Homo sapiens: one gene and its partner. The protein of the gene in region 1 purifies or fractionates together with the protein of each later gene. This does not show direct contact. Each region holds a gene or a part of one and is shown in the gene's direction. Other genes may lie near its edges. The genes, in order: RUBCNL and CERT1.

Region 1 (3,825 bases):
CAATGGTATTTACAGCCCTGTAATTGACTCCAAAGTCTCCTGTTCACCACTGTGCAGGGTGAATGTGGCATAGGCCACCCTTCTATCTCTAGGCCTTCCCCTGTCTCTTCTTGCTTTTTGCTGTTGAAAGTTGCTTTTAGCTTCACAATGCAGAGGGCAGTGGAAGAACAGAAAAGCAAAACATTTCCCGAGCCTGTAATTACAGTGACAAGAGTGCTTCTTGTTTGTGTAGCTCTCAACATTTTAATCATTACGTCTTCACTAAAGCTAAAATCTGAGCTTAGAAGTGAGTGGGTTTTAAAGATGGGTTCTAGATTCATACTGTGTTCTTTAAATGTTATGAACTGAGAATACATTGATACTGATATTATAAGTATGAAAGGTAATATAAGTTACATGAAGCAAAGTCTTCAGTGCTATGGATCATCCCTCTGTTTTATGTACCACTTTGCCTACTTTGTTGAAACACAAGAACAAACTAAATGAAAATAAGAACATATGGAAATGGCTGGGCGCAGTGGCTCATGCATGTAATCCCAGCACTTTGAGAGGCTGAGGCGAGTGGATCACCTGAGGTCAGGAGTTTGAAACCAGCCTGGCCAACATGGTGAAACCCCGTCCCTACTAAAAATACAGAAATCAGCCAGGCGTGGTGGCACGTGCCTGTAATCCCAGCTGCTCGGGAGGCTGAGGCACCAGAATAGCTTGAACCTGGGAGGCGGAGGTTGCAGTGAGCCGAGATGGCCCCACTGCACTCCAGGCTGGGTGACAGAGTGAGACTCTGTGTTTAAAAAAAAAAAAAGAAAGAAAGAAAATGTGGAAATGTGTCTTTACTTCCAGATAGTATTCCTGTCTTGGATTTGACATTTAATTTTATTAAAATAATTTTGATGCATGGATGTTTTACATTTTTATGGGATTTATCAGTTGATCCTTTGTGATTTCTTAATTTTATGCTTTGAAGAATGTTTCCTCTCCCAATGTCAAGCCTCTGTAGGTTTACTGCTAGTTTTATGGCTGATTTATTTATTTTTTCACTTATAAATCCAAGCGGGCTTTACTATGTTGGATAGAGCCAAGTACAGACTTCTAAATTTTTTGGGTTTTGCCATCTCAAAATAATTTGTAGCCAAAATACAATTGAATTCTTACTTATTTTGAATGATTCCTTGCTCATTGCAGAATAGCTCTCCAGACCCCCAGCTGGCCATGTGGTGAGTTCAGGGCCCAAATCAAGTAGTACCAGCAATCAGGGAACTCCTATCTGTTTTGAATGGATTCACACCAGCCACAAGCCTGGAAAGATGGTGTCACAATCTACAGTCAGGCAGGATTCTCCTGTGGAGCCCTGGGAAGGGATCAGCGATCACTCTGGCATTATTGATGGTTCGCCCAGACTCCTGAACACTGACCATCCTCCTTGCCAATTAGACATCAGGCTCATGAGGCACAAAGCTGTCTGGATTAACCCCCAGGATGTGCAGCAACAGCCGCAGGACTTGCAATCTCAGGTGCCAGCAGCAGGGAACAGTGGGACCCATTTTGTGACAGATGCTGCCTCTCCCTCAGGCCCTTCACCTTCGTGCCTCGGGGACTCCCTGGCAGAGACAACGTTGTCTGAGGATACCACAGACTCCGTTGGCAGCGCTTCTCCCCATGGCTCGAGTGAAAAGAGTAGCAGCTTCTCTCTGTCCTCAACAGAGGTACACATGGTCCGCCCAGGATACTCTCATCGGGTGTCTCTGCCCACAAGCCCTGGGATTTTGGCCACCTCCCCATATCCTGAGACTGACAGTGCTTTTTTTGAGCCTTCCCATCTGACATCTGCTGCTGATGAAGGTAATTTTAGTAGGTGACCTCCCTCATTCCTCTCTGTTCACACCCTTGCTTCGCCTTGCTCTAAAGCCTGCCTTGTTGTCTTCCCCATGGGACAATGCATTGCCTCATCTAATATTGTCAGCAGCCCAGCCATCTGGGCGGTCACAACAGGTGAAATCAAATATTGGCTTTCTCCTTAGACTGCAGAGAATTGTTATCTTTTTAGCTTAATGTAGTTGATAATCAGTGCCATGTGCCATCTTTAAGCTGGCGTCTGCCTTCAGGAACTTAGAGCTCATTAAATTGTCTACAGGGGAGAGCATCGGAAGCACTCTCAAGTCAGTGTGGAGGTTGGAGGTGTTTCCAGACAGCCACGGGGTCTGCATTTCACACCAGTACCTAGTAGGTGGTGAAGTCACTTCACTTGTTATATTTACCTGTATAGAATCTGACAGGAAAATGGTAAGATTTTTAAACAATAACTACAGTTTCCCCTGAAGACTATACAAAACCCCTTTTTATTAAAACAAGGGCTCTCACTGCTATGAAGTAATGTACATATTCCTAAGACCCTAAAATTCCTAAAAATTGGATAATCCGTGCGAAGTACTACTCAAGAGTCAATAAATTAGCTATTATTGTTATAATCTGTGACATGTTTATTTCATTTTAAAATATTTGTTATAGTCACACTTGTCATTATTAATTTACATTTCTATTCAAACCCTAGTATAAATAATCAATGAAGCTTTTTCTTTCAAAGCAATTTAAAAAGTCATCAGTCTGCCTGCTGCCTGCCTGTCTATTTCTCTGTATATTTATTTCTCACTAGCAGGAGCTCATCTTCCCCCTTACCTAAAATATGGAGTTTATGTGTTCTTTTGGAAATGTTTGAGCAATCAAAGATGATGACAGTCTTTAACACATTTATTCATTGCTTAAGAAGAACAAATTTTGGACAATCTTTCAATGGTTAATTTTGAGATAAGGACCAAGTTTGAGCAAAATGACAAGACTGATTACAGGCCTTTTTTTTTTTTTTTTCCTATTTTTTTGCTCACTTGCTTGGATAGTTCTAAGGATTAAGAGTGACTTGCAAATTTAGTAGTGGCTAAGTGAGAGATTAGTCTTAATAGATTGTCTTATAGAGGAAAGCCCTCTCCCCAACAGAGAACCACCATAATGACAAGTTATAATAAACTGAAGATGATCTTTGGGGCCTAGCATACCCTTGCCTGAAACTTTTTATTCTATCATGGTACAGGAAGTAGTTCTACAATTTAAAATTATCCTTTAGCTTTTTCTTTTACTCAGAAAGAAAACAGATACCCCAGCCCCTTTTGCCCAAAGACAAGGACTCCCAACAGCTCCTGTCAGTGCCTTTAGAAACAACTCACGGAATGTTTTGAGAATATCTCTTAAACTCAGTAAGGGGATTCATTCTTTAAGATTAAGAAAAAGAAGCCTTGAGTGATCTGGTTCTTTCTTTCTCTGGTGCGGAGGCAGCAATAGGGAAAACAGCCATTGGCCACTAAGATGTGGACATTCCTATGACCGCTGCATCTCAGATGGCGGCAAAAGGGTTTTCTTTTTTCAGAAAATACTTTAGGGAAAGACTATCGGCCTCTGTAAGCATTTCTTAAGGCTGTAGGAAGGGATTCCACAGTTTATTTTGTTGGCATAGGAACTACACATTTACAAGCACTTTCACCTTCCTTTATCTCCTTAGTGTCCTGATAAATATCCCAATTTAAGGGCTGAGAGCGTTTTGATGCAGAGGCACAGCTGGTGAACGGACAGCTGGAACTGGAATCCACTCTGTTCCGATTCTTCTCTGTGCTCTTTCCTCTATACTCAGAGTCTGCAAACTATGACCTGTGGACCAAATCCTGCCAGCTTCCTGTTTTTATAAATGAATTTCTCTTGTGTCTATAGCTGCTTTCTCACTACAGCGGCAGAAGAGAGTGGTTGAAACAGATACTGTATGGCTCTCAGATCCTCCAATAT
Region 2 (3,825 bases), on another chromosome or scaffold:
CACAGCAGGAACATATGTTGATTGTTTACATTTTGTTATTGTTCTTTGTATGTTTATCTTCTGATGCAGCTGAGGTTCCACTTGCATGGGAATCACTTGAGGGAATTATTAAACATGTATATTCCAAGGTTCCACTGAAGACCTACTAAGAAATAATTTTTGGCCATGGAGGCCTGGGAATTTTCATTGTAAGAAGTCTCCCACACAATTCCCCAAGTGATTGATGGCCATTATTCTGCCATCTAGCCAGACTATCAAGCATCAACTCAACTTTTATTTCCCCATGAAACAATTACCTGTGCTTAGGAAGATCCGCCTCTGAATGCCTAGCCGTACTTATTAGCTATAGTTCTTGTGCAAATTTTTACTTACCTCATTGCAATTTTATATCTCTGTTGTCTCTGTCATAAGTCTCAACTCTGCTACTAAAGAAGCCCTAGATAATATATAGCTGAATGAGCATCACTGTTTTCCAGTAAAACTTTATGGACACCAAACTTTTAATTTCAAGTAATTCACACATGTCATATTATTACTTTTATTTTTTCCAGCCATTTAAAAATGAAATTCTTAGCTCACAGGCTGTACAAAAGTAGGCAGCAGACTGGATTTGGCCCTTGGGCCATAGTTTTTGCCAATCTCTGCTCTAGACTATTATCCCAACACAATATTGGTCAATATACAGTAAGTAAATATATGAGTACTGAGTGAATTAATTGTAACACTCGTGATTTTACACAGAGCATGCATATGATCTAGTATACTGACTGCTTTGTAAATATGTGTTCAATAAATGTTTATTAGGTCAATTTTCAAACTCAAGTTAATACCAGAGTTATCAGAGTTTTCTGTTTCTTTAAATAAACTGCTTTTTTCTCCACTGTGTGTTGGAATAGGAAGGCCCTAACAGTCTGATTAATGAAGAAGAGTTCTTTGATGCTGTTGAAGCTGCTCTTGACAGACAAGATAAAATAGAAGAACAGGTATATCTATTATTGAAAATTCTAAGCTGAAATTTATTTTAACACTATAGGCATTCCTTGGTGTATATTATTTCATGTAAATAGAATTTGAACATTGTGAACTTAATAACCTAGAAGCTTAACTGTGAATACATTGAGTCACAAATGTAAAATAATCTTTTTTTTTTTTTTTGAGACAGAGTCTCGCTCTGTTGCCCAGGCTAGAATGCAGTGGCGCGATCTCGGCTTACTGCAACTTCCACCTCCTGGGTTCAAGCGATTCTTCTGCCTCAGCCTCCCGAGTAGCTGGGACTACAGGTGCGCGCCACCGTGCCTGACTAAATTTTTTTGTGTTTTTAGTAGAGACGGGGTTTTACCATATTGGCCAGGCTGGTCTCGAACTCCAGAGCTCATGATCCACCCGCCTCAGCCTCCCAAAGTGCTGGGATTGATTACAGGCATGAGCCATGGTACTGGCCGTAAAATAATCTTTATAAGTCAGTTCCTTTATATGTGAATTTCCAAGCAATAGAAAGAAAACCAATAATTGTTAAAAGGAACCATGCGTAATTAACATGAACTTAAATAGAAATGCTCTTTTTGCTTATTTCCCTTTAAGTGTCCAGCTTAAAACATTCTTTTAATATAAAGCATATATTTAGTCTAAGTAAAAAGCTTCTTTGAATTTTTCTTCACCAAGTATGATATGAAAAGGAAGATGACCAAAAACTTAAGGTTTTTCATCTATATTAGTATTGTTTTTATTAACCCCTTTATTACCTTCACTACTTCACCTTCAGTTTCTTTCTCACTTTTGCTTTGTTCAGTGTTTTGTCATCATTATTGAGTGTATAGCAGTTACACCCAGCTGCTGTGGAAATTGAAGAAAAGTATTTCTTAAACCCATTAACTAGCTTCAAGATTAATTTGATACTTTGTCTTCTTTAATTTGGCAACAGTACAGTTACCATACGTTACAACTAGATGGTACTTAAGGATGAATTTTGTTATTTCCTCCCCTTGTTTAAGCTATGCTAGTTATGGTGGAAGCTTAACCTTTTTGGGGGGCAAGTATTAATAAACTGTGGCTACAGAGTATCTTGCCAAATAATCATGTATGTGTCAGTTTTATACTACAAATGAATTTGCATAGAAAAGTTGGCTTGTTCGTTTCTTATCATTGCTAAGACAGTCATGGCTATTATGCTCTTATTGGTCTACCTAAGGGTAAATCACCTGCAGTAGTAACTGCTTCTCATGTGTATCTTTCGTTATTTTTTTAAAAATTACTGATAAAAAGTTCATGTCACATTAATTTGTAAAGCTTATTGCTCATTTTTTTTATACCCAAAAGATGCTATGTACCACTCAAGAAGAGTGGGAACTTTTAGTTCCTAAATGGGCTCTACTTTTGGAAACCTAAAGTACTACCTGAAGTAGCATTATTTATTTGTTTCCCTTAGTTTTTTGTCTAGGATGTGCTGTTTTGGGAAAAAGTAGTGAATGAGTCAAGACACCTCAGTCTTACTCTTAGTTTTACCTCTAACTAACTTTGTAGCTATGAACTTATCACTGAATTCTCTGGGCCTTGGTTTTCTAATCTGTGAAACAAAGGAGACAAGATGATTCAAAACATCTCTTCTCTCTAAAATGCTACTCTACTGAATATCAGTATGGTGATTGAGTTGGGTTTGAGAGAATTGATGAACCCTTCCGTAAGCTTTAGAAAAAGAAATATTCATGGGGCCATCCAATCAACTTCATTCTATTCTTGACACTGTACTAGATGCTCTGCAAAATAGTCATTGAACAGAGCATTGTTTTTCTTGCCTAAGAGCCAGGCATGTTGATATGACAGAGATACAGTGTGGTAATACTCTATAGAGTAGTGAGAGCTTCAGTAATCCATAAAATCAGTTCCATAGATTTAGATCATTTCCCTCTTCATATTCAGTGTATATTGCACAGATCTCTCAACAACACAGCCATTAAATAGATATTCTCCAAGTGACACTTACATCACACATGTTTGAGTTTACGTTACTTGCAAACATAGGGAAAGAAAGATACATGGGATAAACTGGTGCATGAGAAATGAGATCTTAGCAGTTGGTTGAAATAAATGAGAACAACTGAGGCAAACTAAAGAGGAAGAAGGGCAAGTGGCAGCTTAACAGGAGTAAGATGATGAGATGAAGGGCAGAATACCTTCATGGAGAGGAGGCAAAGAGATATACATGATATGTTCTTAGGAACATAACTGAAGCAAACAATGATATTATTTCTAATTATATATAAACCTGTGAGTCAGCCTTCCAGGGGCGGCCTGCTAAGGTAGAATCATTGGAATGATTTGGCCAGGGTTTGGATAGGAGAGAATTGGCAGCAGCGTTAAGATTGACCCATGATAAATAATGCTATGCAGGTAGCAGGGAGTCTGACTAGGAGCAAAATCAACGAACTTATCCCTTGCCTAACATAGTATCTGTGGAGTCAGAAAGAAGAGGTTAAATTGGGATATCTGAGGCAAGTATCAGGATTTGCCATGTCTGCGGAGTAGTTTCATAATTCTAATGGTTATAAGCACTAAGGCGTTCACTAAGTGAATGTTGGTAGTTCCAGGTTATATTATCCATTCTTGAGTTACAAAATACACTTTAAAACCTTCCCATCTTAATATTATATGTTTTTTTAGTCACAGAGTGAAAAGGTGAGATTACATTGGCCTACATCCTTGCCCTCTGGAGATGCCTTTTCTTCTGTGGGGACACATAGATTTGTCCAAAAGGTAAGCTAATGTCAGAGTTTACTAAAAGTACACCTTGTATTGTTCTTCATTGTTGGTGGAAATATCTTTTATTTG

The links.
Region 2: the proteins of RUBCNL (region 1) and CERT1 purify together in Homo sapiens (affinity purification with mass spectrometry; one large-scale study listed by BioGRID and IntAct). This does not show direct contact.

The regions. Positions count from the first base shown.
Region 1 is NC_000013.11:46,369,955-46,373,779, reverse strand, and holds part of RUBCNL (protein associated with UVRAG as autophagy enhancer), read left to right. Parts: intron 1-1,182; 5' UTR 1,183-1,304; coding exon 1,305-1,839; intron 1,840-3,825. UniProt on the Homo sapiens protein: Regulator of autophagy that promotes autophagosome maturation by facilitating the biogenesis of phosphatidylinositol 3-phosphate (PtdIns(3)P) in late steps of autophagy.
Region 2 is NC_000005.10:75,400,130-75,403,954, reverse strand, and holds part of CERT1 (ceramide transfer protein), read left to right. Parts: intron 1-896; coding exon 897-983; intron 984-3,657; coding exon 3,658-3,750; intron 3,751-3,825. UniProt on the Homo sapiens protein: Shelters ceramides and diacylglycerol lipids inside its START domain and mediates the intracellular trafficking of ceramides and diacylglycerol lipids in a non-vesicular manner.